Regions from separate parts of the Homo sapiens genome. Here region 2 is reported to be linked to region 1. Evidence: microRNA targets listed by miRTarBase, many of them from high-throughput screens and not tested one by one. Region 1 holds a microRNA gene; the other region holds the end of a gene's coding sequence.

The links. Region 1 holds the annotated microRNA hsa-miR-3168 (GAGUUCUACAGUCAGAC, at 1,904-1,920, shown strand). A microRNA usually pairs through its seed, bases 2 to 8, with sites in the 3' UTR of a target mRNA and lowers its output. Matches are read on the target gene's strand: a 7mer-m8 pairs with bases 2 to 8, a 7mer-A1 pairs with bases 2 to 7 and ends in A, and an 8mer does both.
Region 2: the mRNA of STMP1 is a reported target of hsa-miR-3168. Seed matches in the 3' UTR shown: 7mer-A1 at 3,157-3,163.

What each region holds. Positions count from the first base shown.
Region 1 is chr13:41,098,844-41,102,995 of GRCh38, reverse strand. It overlaps MIR3168 (microRNA 3168), which reads left to right and starts at 1,896; the gene lies at 1,896-1,977.
Region 2 is chr7:135,673,497-135,677,496 of GRCh38, reverse strand. It overlaps STMP1 (short transmembrane mitochondrial protein 1), which reads right to left. Exons shown (of 3, transcript NM_001130929.2): 3 at 1,081-3,406. The coding sequence ends at 3,332. Among named protein-coding and RNA genes, the nearest start is that of STMP1, 13 kb to the right of the region's middle.

The DNA of each region.
Region 1 (4,152 bases):
GGGGTTTCACCATATTGGCCAGGCTGGTCTTGAACTCTGACCTTGTGATCTGCCCACTTCAGCCTCCCAAAGTGCTGGGATTACAGGCATGAGCCACCGTGCCTGGCTTATGTGTGTGTGTGTGTGTATATATATATAATGTGTATATATATATTATATATATATTTATATATATATATATAAAATATATATATAATGTGTATATATATATTTTATATATATATATAAATATATATATAATATATATATACACATTATATATATATACACACACACACTAAAATATATATATATATATATTTTTTTTAAGAGATGGAGTCTCACTATGTTGCCTAGGCTGGTCTCAAATTCCTGGGCTCAAGCAATTCCCCCACCTTGGCCTCCCAAAGTGCTGGGATCATAGGCTTGATCCACCATGCCTGGCCCTGTGAAGTATTTTAAGGTTTATTCTGAGCCAGTATGAGTGATGGAGGCCCAGGGAAAACACAAACCCAAGAAGCCTTGAGTAAGTGGTCCTGAGGCAGTCAGAATGTAACTTTGTCTATGGCGGTGAGTGGTGGCTCAAGCCTATACTCCCAGCGCTATGGGAGGCCTAGGGAGGCGGATCACTTGAGATCAGGAGTTCAAGAATGTAACTTTGTTTTATACATTTTAGGGAAGCAAAAGTTACAGCCAAAACCGTAAATCAATACATGGAGGTTATACACTAGTTTAGCCCGAAAACATGAGATATCTTGAAGCAGGGGCTTACAGGTCACAGTGGGTTCAGAGATTTTTTAAATTTGCAGTGGGTTAAAGGAACAAAGCTTTGTCTAAAAACTTGGAGTTAGCAGAAAGGAATGTTGAAATTGGGATAAGGATGCTGTGTCAGAGTCCGGTTGTGAGAGCAAGCTTCAATATACTGGGTCAAAATGACCTACTTATCAAGACAGATGGCCTGCAGGTGTGACCTAACCCTTGCCTTGCATGGCTTTAGGTCCTGTTTATAATTTGGTATTTTATTGCCACAGAGTTTGTTCTGTCAGTCTTTTGATTTCTATTGTAACATTATTGCTAGTCAGTTGTGCCTAAATTCCAAAAGGGAGGGGATGTCTTGAGGCCTTTCTGACCTCCTTTCCTGTCATGGCCAGGAACTAATTTTTAAGATTTCTCTGGTGTCTTCTTGGCTAAGAGGGGGTCCATTTAGTCATTTGAGGGCTTATAGTTTTGTTTTTCATTTACATGTGTGTATTTTTGTACGTATGTAAAATACATATATATTTTACGTATATAAACTGCTTCTAATGCTATGTAGCATGTCCCATATGAGTACATCAAGGACCTGCTCACTCTTTTTTTTTTATCTTCAGAGTAGACATTGTAAAAATGTATCATAATCCACTAAGTTTCCATTGGTGGACATTTAAGTGACTTATAATCTTTTGCCATTACAAACAGTGCTGTTGTGAATACTCTTCTACTTACATTATTTCACTTCTATGCCAAAATATTTTTAGAAGCAATTTCTCAAAAGGTGTGTACATTTGGCATTTGGAATTTTGACAAGGTATTACAGAAGTGCCTTCTGGAGAAGTTATGCCCATTTATGCTACACCAGCAATATATAATGGTGCCATTTCACCCATCCCTCCTAGAAATGTGTTATCAGACTTATTGATATTTGCACTGACTTGAGTTTTGCTTTAGTTCTGGCTGCCAGAGAAATATTTGTTCTTTCACATTTTCTGAACTGGTTGTTTGCCCTTCCAATCAATTTTGCATGTGGCGTCCTTTCAACAAATTCTTTTTTTTTTTTTTTTAGAAATAGGGTCTCTCACAGAGAAACACACATACGAACTAATGTGTAAATGTTTTTGTTCCTCCTCATTGATGACAAAATGATGGAATAATGCTTAAAGATCATGAGTTCTACAGTCAGACAGCCTGAGTTGGAGGCTCATCTTCACTTCTTGCTGTGTGACCCTGGGCCAGTGACTTAACTTCTCTATGCCATTTTCTTATCTGCAAAAGGAGGGTAATACTAGTATCTGTCTCATAGGGTTGTAGTAAATTGATTATTAATTGCTATATGAATATTCATGGAAAACTTATAAATAGTTCATATTTCTTTTAGCAGACAGTTTTGACATGGACATATGTTTTTGACATGGACATATGTTCTCATGATTCTCATATTGTGTACATATAATGTAGTCTTGTGAATTAAGCAGATGTTTCTCAAGGGACACCATAACACTTAGAGGCTCTGTCATTTGAATAAATTTGAGCCCACCAATGTAAAACATGCAGAAAATCTTGAGTCGTATGTTCAGTCTCTGTTCTGTATCTTGCCACGTTTTGACCTCATGCAAGTTGCCTAATATTTCAATCTCAAATTTTTAATCTGTAAAATGAGTTACTTATATTTATGTAACTTCTAGAATTTTTCAGTGCTCAAATAAAATATTACAAAATATGAAGCCAAAAAAAGAGGGAAAGAAACAGGGTCTCATTCTGTCTCTGAGGCTGAAGTGCAGTGGCACGATCATAGCTCACTGCAGTCTCCAACACCTGGGGTCAAGCAATCCTCCTGCCTCAGCCTTCCAGTAGCCAGGACCACAAGCACACACTGCCACATCTAGCTAATTTTTTTTTTGTAGTGACAAGGTATCAATATTTTGCCCAGGGTGGCATCAAACTCCTGGCCTCAAGCAGTCCTCTTATTAGGGAAGCAGGAGCCTAGGAGAGCCAGTGACACCATTGAAAAATCAACCCCATCTTAAAACTAGCAAGGCACATTCCTTGCCAGTGACAACCCATGGTCCTGATATGTTTACAATTAAGAAAGCAGCTTGATAATGCCTGTAAGGACAAACTCCTACAACAACAGAAAGTCCAGATGTCCTGATCCCCATAACAATGTATCCTTTCACATAATTATAGTTATGCTTTAATGTACTTACACACCAAAAGGTCAAGCATAGTTTTCATTAAATCAGTAAAATAATAAATTTTGTCATGCTGTCTGCCCGTCTGCACATAGATACAACTGAGCTTAGTCTTTACATTGACAAGAACCCTATATAAGAAAAACGTGGCTGGATGGCCAGGCGTGGTGGCTCATGATTGTAATCCCAGCACTTTGGGAGGCCAAGGAGGGTGGATCACTAGATGTCAGGGGTTCCAGGCCACCCTGGCCAACATGGTGAAACCCCTTCTCTACTAAAAAAATACAAAAAAGGCTGGGCACGGTGGTTCACGCCTATAATCCCAGCACTTTGGGAGGCCAAGGTGGGCAGATCACGAGGTCAGGAGATCGAGACCATCCTGGCTAACACGGTGAAACCCCGTCTCTACTAAAAATATAAAAAAAAAAATTAGCCGGGTGTAGTGGCAGGCGCCTGTAGTCCCAGCTACTCGGGAGGCTGAGACAGGAGAATGGCGTGAACCTGAGAGACGGAGCTGGTAGTGTGCCGAGATCGCGCCACTGCACTCCAGCCTGGGCGACAGAGCAAGACTCCGTCTCAAAAACAACAAAAAATATATATATATACATATATATATATGTATATATATGCATGTGTTTGTATATATATATTTGTGTATATATATATATATATACACAAAAAAATTAGCTGGGCGTTGTGGTGCACTCTTATAGTCCCAGCTCCTCGTGAGGCAGAGGCAAGAGAATTGCTTGAGCTTGGGAGGCGGAGTTTGCAGTGAGCCAAGATCATGCCACTGCACTCCAGCCTGGGCGTCAGGGCAGGACTCTGTGTGAAAACAAAACAAAACAAAACTTGTGACTCTGTGTAAAAAAAAAAGCAAAAAACAAAAAAAAAACAAAAACTTGTGATTCCAGCACTTTGGTAGGCCTCCACCCACCTAACAATTGTTTGGGACACCCAACAGTTCTGGATTAACTTCATTTATCCAAATTGCACTAATTCCATTAGCATATTATGGCAACAGCATTCCTGGAGACATCAGAATTGGCCACCCAAAAGACTAGAATGCAACCTCATTGGAAAAATTGAAGCTGCGCTAGGTATACTGGGGCAAGGTGAGTTTATAGCTAATGTAATGTAGGAATGTAGAGAGGCATTCCTTAGAGAAAAATTCCATGTAAAAAATAGGCCACATAAAAGGAATGCTATTCCAAGACAAGGGAAA
Region 2 (4,000 bases), not on the chromosome of region 1:
GAAAAGTCTAAAGATATACTTTTGGTAACTTCATAAAATTCAGCCTCTTTTGACAATTTTAAATAAGGCTTTTTTTCTTGCTTTGTTTTTGTTTTGTTTGGGAGGATTACAGTTTAGGGATAAGCTTTTCAAGTTCACTGTATTTTTCTAGCATCAATCCTGAAGTCTTGTATTTCACATGTCAGAGTAATCTGCACTAGTATTTTGAGCAACTCTCATTTTATGGTCAGATGTGGCAGAAGTTTTCCTAACCATATTAGTAGGAGCTTTCAAACATTTTTTAAAGGAAAAAAAAAAGGCCTGTCTTGTGGTGCTTCTTCCCACCACTCCATTGATCTGTGTGGCAAGGGTTCCTACAAAATTCCCAGGGAAGGGGTAACTTTCAGTGCCATAAACCCCATTCACAGTAAGGATTTTCAACTACACCCTAAAACTATGATGGTTCTGGGCTCCTCCAACATATAGCTCAGTGAAGATCATCTTGCCTGAGAACTCTGAGGTCCTTTTCACTGCTGCCAAGAACATAAAACTAGGAGAGGGTATCTGAATGGTGAATGCAAAGTCAGCCTGCACTGTGTAGCAGTTTACATGATGAAGCCGAATTTAAGAACTGATCTGCTAGATGGATCCCACTGGTAGAAATGATCCCCTTGCCAAGGTTAAGTGTCACCTCTAAAGGAAGCCCTAAGTCCAAATGAGCCTTGTTTACAAGGTATAATATAAAGAGACCTATCCTTCTAATAGCTAAGTGACCTCCAATCCCAAAGCAGCCACTCTGGGAGACCACACACACCACAGCAATGCTATCATGGTTGGTAACAAGGAATCCCTCTTTGGAAACAGCTTTCTAAGCTTCTAGCATTTTTAATACCCGCAAGGTAAACTTTCATCCTTTGAGGCTGTAGTTCATTGTGCTAACAATTCAAGATCAAATCTTGTGAGCCAGATGGTACAATCCAGGTGGATACTGTAAATTTTCATCAGTATCAAAAACAGCGACTACAGAATAATGACAAACTTTTTGTGTGGTTCATAAACTGATTCCAAAAGTGACTGCAGAACTAGCCAAAAAGCAACAAGTTTGTACTAATAGCTACTATTTATTAGATAGTCTGCAAAGCACTGTGAAACATTACATACATTATCTCAATTATTTTTTATGAAAACCCTATGAGGTGGATATTTACGTCCACGTCTACAGATAATGCAAGAGTTTCTGAAAGAATAAGCTACAAACCCGTGACATGCAATTTACCTATTAAATGAATCTAAAAGTTTAAAAAAGCTGGGCGCAGTGGCTCACGCCTGTAATCCCAACACTTTGGGAGGCTGAAGTGGGCAGATCACTTGAGGCCAGGAATTTGAGACCAGCTTTGCCAACATGGTGAAACCTCGTCGTTACTAAAAATACAAAAATTAGCCAGGTGTGGTGGTGATGCCAGCTACTTGAGAAGCTGCAGCACGAGAATCACTTGGACCGGGAGGCAGGAGTTGCAGTGAGCCAAGACTGTGCCACTGCACTCCAGCCTGGGCAGCAGAGTGAGACTCTGTCTCAAAAAAAAAAAAAAAAAAAAGCCACTTGCCCATGATCACGCTGCTAGGAAAAGTCAAACCATAATTTAATCCTAATCTGTCACACACAAAGACAACATTGACAGGAATAAAACTTACTTCCATGTAGGAGAGATGCAAGTTGTCAAAGAGAAGCAGAATCACTTTATCATATACAGAATCAATGTCATCACTGTCTGAAAAAAGATGCTCTGAACAATTCTTCCAGTTTATTGATTCTGAACCTGCCATGTCTTCAAAAATGGCATTATTAGTGAAGCTGCTCAACAAGTCCTCTGAAACAAAACAGCTAGCGAAATGGGTATTTGTATTTAGTCTAAATTATACTTTTAGGACTTCATCTTATAGCTATACCCTGAATCGATATGCTTAATAACATTAGGATTGAAGTTATCACTGTAATAGCAAAAGAACAACCTAAGCATTCACCAGTAGCAGATTAAATCAATTATGTTATATCTATTCAAAAAAATTTTAGGCAGCCAAAAAAAGAATGAGGTTCCTTGCTACTTACATGCTGGTATAGAATGATCTCCATTAAAAAAGAAAAAAAGAAAAAAAAAAGGCGAGGGCTAGACCTCCATGTATAGTTACTATTTGTGTTACACGTGTTTGTTTAGGCACAGACTCTTTCTCAAAAGTATAAGGCGAAGTGGTAACAGTAACTTGTCAAACAGGAGCCAGGAGCCAGAGAACAGGGGTGGGAGAGGCCCTTTATATGAAATTACTTTTGTATCTTGTCCCATGGCAAAAGTTAATTATTCAAATTTTTTTTTAATTTAAAAACAATACAAGCTGATTATACATTTGACAAATACAAGGAATTTCTGACTGCAGGAAAAAACAAAGCATCAACTACAAAGAGAAGCAGAAATTCTTCTTGAGCTGCTGATTTTACTATACATTTGGGCTATATTTTTTCTTAAGACAATCACTACAAAGTAATAATATAAATACCTTTTTTAATGTGAAAAGGTATAAAATCTCCTTTAAAAACTTTTCACTTATCCATCATATAACATCAAATGTACCTGTAATCCCAAGTATGATTCTTTTGAGAAGGAAAAAAGTCAGATCAAATACATCATTAAGGAAAAACATGCACACTAAATAGACTATGAACTCTACTGGGACAAAGACCATTATTTTGTGTATTTTTTCATTCCCCAATTCCTGACAGGATTCTCAGAATCGTTTCTTCATGAATAGCAAATTGACTTATTGGTTAAATTAGCAACTACAGAGCTGCCTAACAACAGTACAAAATAAATGAATAATTCACCAGAAACTAGCTCTAGATACTAATTTTAATTACTTTGCAGCAACATAATTTAGTACCAAATGTTTAACAAGTACCCATTATAATTACTAAACTGTGAAGTCACTATTATTTGTATCTGACCAGCTATACAAAACTCATCAATTTTTCTTTTGAAAAAAGGTAGTAAAAATCGCAAACGATAAAGAAGACACTACTCATTAAAAGTCATGTTTACTAATCTAGCACCATAATTCCAGTCTTAGAACCTCCCATGCAGTTGGAAAGGGATTATGGGAAGAGGTGAGTATGTTGGAAATGTCGGGTAGTTCTCAAATTGGGGCCCCATTTTGCTTGCTTTAAAGCAAAAAACACAGGGTCTAGCAAAGAAGAGAAGTGCTGAGGCTGGAGACGAAAACAAAAGCTTTTGGTTCAGATAGTAAACGAGGCCCTCAAGAGCAGTAGAATCAGTATATCCTGAAGGCAGTGCTGGAGGCAGTCTCATGCACTAGGGGGTTTCTTCTTGGCATCCAAGTCCTTTTTAATTTCTTCAAGTTTTTTAGCCAGGTTTGGTATCTTTGAAGAGAAAAAAGGTTATTATAATTTTGCATCTACCTAATCAATATTCTTGTACTTCTCTTCCTCCAAAGATAAATGGTTTTACAAGCTTTTATCTTCCTCCAAAAGAGATCTGCTAAATAGTGGTTATTTCTTTTTGCTTTCTTTTTTAAGATAGGGTTTCACTCTGTCACTCAGGCTGGAGGGCAATGGTGCAAACACAGCTCACTGCAGCCTTGACCTCCAGAGCTCAAGTGATCCTTCCCGCCACAATCCCGCAAGTAGTTGGGACCACGGACATGCCACCACCCCTGGCTAATTTTTGTATTTTTTGTAAAGATGGGCTTTCGTCACACTGCCCAGGCTGGTCTCGAACTCCTGAGCTTGAGCAATCTGCCCACCTCGGCCTCCCAAAGTGCTAGGATTACAGGCGTGAGCCACTGCACCCGGCCAATAGTGGTATTTCTTAGCCTTATAACTGCATGTGAAAGATATCAGAAGTTGTCAGATAAGTATGCTCCTTCTCTGAAACCCACTTCTACTTTTGTATACCCACTTCCGCTCGATCTGGTGCCAAGTAAAGGTTGTACATATAAACAATAAATGTGACAT